Regions from separate parts of the Homo sapiens genome. Here region 2 is linked to region 1. The links come from fine-mapping of genetic effects on gene expression. A gene starts in region 1. The other region holds a variant in brackets. All regions are shown on one strand. Distances are from middle to middle. Region 1 holds the start of LINC01352 (long intergenic non-protein coding RNA 1352). Region 2 overlaps HLX (H2.0 like homeobox).

What was found. PIP is the estimated chance that this variant, and not a neighbour inherited with it, causes the effect. A credible set is the group of variants that fine-mapping cannot tell apart.
Region 2: its variant is the best candidate, but not a certain one, in a credible set for the expression of LINC01352 in esophagus muscle (GTEx, PIP 0.64).

What each region holds. Positions count from the first base shown.
Region 1 is chr1:220,827,814-220,830,722 of GRCh38, forward strand. LINC01352 (long intergenic non-protein coding RNA 1352) reads left to right here and starts at 1,442. Exons shown (of 4, transcript NR_110797.1): 1 at 1,442-1,629; 2 at 2,880-2,909.
Region 2 is chr1:220,882,662-220,885,570 of GRCh38, forward strand. HLX (H2.0 like homeobox) reads left to right here. Exons shown (of 4, transcript NM_021958.4): 4 at 1,534-2,398. The coding sequence ends at 2,043. Among named protein-coding and RNA genes, the nearest start is that of HLX-AS1, 4.0 kb to the left of the region's middle. The variant C/T (reference allele first, on the strand shown) is at 1,170.

The DNA.
Region 1 (2,909 bases):
GATAAGCAACTTCATTTGCTTCCTCCCTTATTACTCTTTTGTTTTGTGTTTAGGACTCTGGTCTCCCCTGAGGTTGATCTCTTCTTCTGGGGACAACAGCCTGCAGGGTGATTTTGAAAAGCAGGCTCTGACTTCTACTTCCTTGTCCTGTACTCACCCCACCTGGTGTAATTCACCGTAATGCAGTGAACTTCCACATGGCTGCTGGGCATGCTTCCCAAAGCCAGCCCCTGGGCAGGGTTTCCCTTAATTTAGACCCCTGTCCCTACCTCTCCAAGTGCAAAGTGTACAAGGCTACACGCCCAGCTGCCCCCCACCCCCATACACACACTGGAGAGACCAAATGTTTGAGATCACTGTTGGGTAGCTGGGTCAAGAGAGCTTCATAACAATGTTGTTGGCATGTGGAGAGCTTTTCTTTTTCTTGGATCCCAACTGGAAATTATCAGCTTCGCCCCATGCTGACATGCGAATGTCCAGGCCTGCCTTTCTGCTGCAGGGCAATGCTCCAGGTTACAACATCGACACCAAGCAGTTTGTTGAGAAAACTTTGGACCTCATGAGCTGGGCAAGAGCGGCCTGGCAGGTGGTAGGAGAGCAGCCTGTCCATGCCTCAGCTGTGGCTCCACTGGCTCTGTGACTGTGCAGATTTTCTAACTTTTGAAGACCTCTGTTTGGATATCCATAAAATAGGTAAGATGGTGCTAATACCTACCTGTGATGTTGTGAAGATTTAATAGCATAATACTTAAAAGCACTTTGCATACATTAGCAAAGTGCCTAAATATTAGTTATTTGGCGGAGGCTATTAACCAGTGTGCTATGAGGTGCAAAGTAAGTTGTTACCAATAACTCAAAGAACTCCAGTTTGCAAATGTTTTACTTTTACTTAAGAGAATCTTTGCGGGAGAATTAAAACCAATTAATTCCCACCACTGGCCAAGAGCTCATGCTGTAATTATCCAAGACAGAATAGCTCAACAGAAAACCAAGTCATGCAATTCTGAGCACTTGTCCTTGGGATGCCACTTTGGGGCTCCCATATCTGAAATCATTTTGTTCTCAGTCCACCTGTGTGACATTTCTGTCCTGCTCAGCCACGGGTTCACAATAATCAAGGGAATGACCCAAGGGATTCACTTCTTCCAAGCAGCCGATGCCTTTGGAAGTTATGTTGACATTGCTTGTTTAAACCTAGGGCAAGAAATCCTTTCTCTGCCAGACCTGACTCTTCAGGCACACTCCTCAGTTTGGAGACGTGACTTGCCATGTAGTACTGAGAGGGAAAACAGGCCAGAAACAGCCTTGTTGAAAACTTCTTTTCTGCTTAGCTGCCCTCTGAACAGTCACCATAAAGATTGTGAGGTGCTGGAGCCAGGGATGACCTCATAAAGCCCTTTGCTAAATACTTAGTGAGCTGGTACTGTGGGCCAGGCACTGTGCTCATCATGAACAAAACCAAGGCAGACAACACTGTCATTAATGGAGCTTATCATGTAATACGGAAGCCTGGGATAAGCAACAAATTACACAAGTGACAAATGTGATGAGTGCTGTGAAGCAGAGTGCGGGGTGCCCAGGGAATCAGCAGAGCCCTGGAGGATAACAGCCTGAGCTCCAGGAAGGAAGGTTGTGGTGGTGCTTAGGGTCAGAGTGGGGACAAGCATTCCAAGCAAAGGGAAAAGCACATACACATGCTATATTAGTCAGGTTTCTCTAGAGGGACAGAACTAACAGGATAGATGTATAAATGAGGGGGAGCTTATTAAGTAGTATTGACTTGCATGAGCACAAGGTGAAGTCCCACAATAGGCTGTCTGCAAGCCGAAGAGCAGGGAAGCCAGTCCGAGTCCCCAAACCTCAAAAGTAGGGAAGCTGACAGTGCAGCCTTCTGAAGGCCCCAGAGCCCCCGGCAAACTGCTGGTGTAAATCCAAGAGTCCAAAAGCTGAAGAACTTGGAGTCTGTTGTTCGAGGGCAGGAAGTATCCAGCACGAGAGAATGATGAAGGCTGGAAGACTCAGCAAGTCTACTCCTTCCATGTTCCTCTGTGTGCTTTTATTCTGGCTGTGCTGGCAGCTGATTAGATGGTGCCCGCCCAGATTGAGGGTGGGTCTGCCTCTCCCAGTCCACTGACTCAAAAGTTAATATCTTTGGCAACACCCTCACAGACACATCCAGGAACAATAGTTTGCATCCTTCAATCTAATCAAGTTGACACCTAATATTAACCATCATACATCCCCTCCATGGGAAGGAGCATGATGCCTTATATAGTCTACTACCCTCAAACCAATCCTACTCCCTCATCCCCAACACCTTCTTCCCCTGGAACTCTAGATAGAGTTTCTTGACTAGACACATAAGCACAATTAGGCTATGCCTAATTATGAAGCCATCCCGGTTTATACATTTTCTTGTTATACTTGCCTATTTACAAGTTTTTCTTGTGAAAACTTGCCTATTCTTTTTGCTGCCTCCTCTCCACCCTAAAAGAGAAACTCTAAGGAAACACTCCCAGAGTTTATTATAGTTATTATGACTCAGATTTGAAGACTAGAATTTAATGGAGGTTTTCCTAACATTCCTTGGGGACTTGAAGGACTTTTTTTCCCACCAGCCACAGAAGTAAGATTATAAAACATTTATTTATTAAAAGAAAAGAAATCTTCTGGGCTCAAAGTTCTAGTTATTCTAAAAGCAGAGCACTTGTTCCATGTTTTCATATCGCCTCCCCACACCTACCTCTCCTCTCCCATTCTCTATTTCTTTATTTCTGTGCTGTAGTAATAAGCAAAACAGAGAAGCAATTGGTTTTAGTCTTGGATCTTGACCTTGCTGTGTGGCCTTGGCCAAGTCACTTCCCCTTTCTCAGCCTCAGTTTCTTCAAGTGTAAAATGAGAGATTGGAT
Region 2 (2,909 bases), 55 kb after region 1:
CTCAACTGTAGTGCAATTCGCTGTAGGAGGCAGTTTATTTCAGAAAAGATAAAAACCCAAAGGCAAGAGATTGTTGTTGGGTTTTTTTCCCTCTCACCCTCCCTCCTTCCTCCTCCTCCTGCTGCTTCTGCTGGATTGTGAAATCCCCAGTTGTGAGGAAGTGAAAATATAATTTCAAACGGAATTAGTTAGCTCCAGGAGGGCAGGGAGTCTGCTTGGAGTGGCCACACATTACAAGGCTTAGGCTCTGAAGAAAATCTGAAGGAAGGGGAGAGGTGAGGGAAAGAAAGAAAGAAAAATGATTCTCTTAGAATACCCAAGAGCATTTCAGCAGGTTCTGCCTATTTGAATTTTTTCAAGACAATAGGAAATGTATTGTGGCTGAAATAATTTTATTCTTTTTCTTAAATTTAAGAACTGGGCTTCCCCACCCCCCACCACCCGAGCTTTGACTGTGGAAGAGTCACTCTTGTGCACCCCATAGCACTGGCTCTGGCTCTGGGGTGCTGATTTTCCCCAGCAGGTCAGAAGCCAGAGGCAGGCTTCTTTTTCTTAGCTCCTTGGTCCCCAAATTGCTGTCTCTGTTTCTTTCTGACCTCCATTACACAACTCTTCTCCCCAGTACACACACACACACACACACACACACACACACACACACACACACACACGAGGAGCCCAGCCGTTTTCCACCAGCTGTGGATGTTATTTTTAAAAGGGAAGCTGGAACTTGTGTGAATGCGTTGGGTCCCCCAGGGGATCGTATATATCTGTATAGATTCTCTGCCCCATCTCTATCCCCTTCCTTAATTTTGCACACATTTAATTCCATTGTTTTCTGAGCCCCCAGGAGAATTTGTTTATCCTTAACAGGGGCAAGGTCCTTATCAGCTCTTGCGTACAAACACACCAAAGAAATGCTGTCTTACTGAAAGCCCAACAATGCCCCCACCCTACTGTGATTAACAGTTTAAAACCCCTTTCCCTTTCTGCTTCCCATGTTTCCTTTTTTGAAAAAAGTATTGCTTTGGGTAGTGGCAGTAGAGGAGAGGGCCAACTTAGAGCAGGAATTCTTAACACTGGCACACCAAACCCTTGACATTGTAAGCAATATCTTGGGCATATGTGTATTTTTCTGGGCTAGGAGTCCATAACTTTAATCAGATTCT[C/T]ATGGGGGTCCTGGCATAAAAAAATTACATGGATTTAGAGTAGAGAGAGAGTATGTTGGGGGTCGGGTGCAGGAATCTGCCTTTCCAACAGTCACTCAGGTCATTTTAGTCCTGGGGCCTGAGGGTTGCATTTTGAAAACGGTCTTAGTGGGTTCCCTAGGCCAGGATTCCTGGCTTCTTGTGTTCCCCTGGGCTGCCCCTTGGCTCCTGCGCCTACCACAGTGTCTGGTCCTTGGTAGAGTCGCCAAGTAAGCGTTGCTTTTTCACTCAGGGAGGTGGCTTGAGGGTGCACGCGAGTCGGATAGGAGCAAACCTGGGTCTCATCTCGGTGTCTCTTCTTGTCTCCCGGTGTGGCGCGGCGCAGGTGAAGGTGTGGTTCCAGAACCGGCGGATGAAGTGGCGGCACTCCAAGGAGGCCCAGGCCCAAAAGGACAAGGACAAGGAGGCTGGCGAGAAGCCATCAGGTGGAGCCCCGGCTGCGGATGGCGAGCAGGACGAGAGGAGCCCCAGCCGTTCTGAAGGCGAGGCTGAGAGCGAGAGCAGCGACTCCGAGTCCCTGGACATGGCCCCCAGCGACACGGAGCGGACTGAGGGGAGTGAGCGTTCTCTGCACCAAACAACAGTTATTAAGGCCCCGGTCACTGGCGCCCTCATTACCGCCAGCAGTGCTGGGAGTGGTGGGAGCAGCGGCGGCGGCGGCAATAGTTTCAGCTTCAGCAGCGCCAGCAGTCTTAGTAGCAGCAGCACCAGTGCGGGTTGCGCCAGCAGCCTTGGCGGCGGCGGCGCCTCGGAGCTTCTCCCTGCAACACAGCCCACAGCCAGCAGCGCTCCCAAAAGCCCCGAGCCAGCCCAAGGCGCGCTTGGCTGCTTATAGACTGTACTAGGGCGGAGGGGATCCGGGCCTTGCGTGCAGCCTCCCAACCATGGGCTGGGTTTTGTGCTTACTGTATGTTGGCGACTTGGTAGGGCAGGAGACGCAGCGTGGAGCCTACCTCCCGACATTCACGCTTCGCCCCACGCTGCTCCGACTGGCTGCAGCGGACACTGCCCAAAGCAGAGGGGAGTCTCAGTGTCCTGCTAGCCAGCCGAACACTTCTCTCCGGAAGCAGGCTGGTTCGACTGTGAGGTGTTTGACTAAACTGTTTCTCTGACTCGCCCCAGAGGTCGTGGCTCAAAGGCACTTAGGACGCCTTAAATTTGTAAATAAAATGTTTACTACGGTTTGTAAAGGCCGCTTGGCTTTGCTGGGGGTTGTTAAGGCCAGAGATCTACAACCGGACCTTAGTCCCGGGGACACTGTAGAATGCAGCAGCTGAAGGTGGTGGGGCTGGAGTTTCAGGGGAAGTGGCTCAACCTCAGAGCCATCTTGTTACAGACATCAGAGATGGGCGTCTGGGTTTAGAGGCTTCTAATTAAGAGATTTCTAGCGCCAACTGCCACTGAAAGTGCCCTCTGAGACCCTGAGTAGCCTGAGAGTGGAGCAGGCCATAGAAACTGTTAGGCCAGTGCAACAGATGGTTTCCCCATTCACAGTATGGACGAAATGAGTTCCTAGAGTACTCAGAGTTGGAATGGGGAAGGCAGTGATGCCAGGCGGGGTCAATCTAGGCACAGCTGTAATCACTATGTGGACGCGAAGCGCGGGCCCAGAGCCCTGCACAAACTTTTCCTTGTTCCGGGATGGGGTAGAGGACAGGTTTGCAATGTTGCTGAGGAAAGGACAGACATGACACAGTGGTT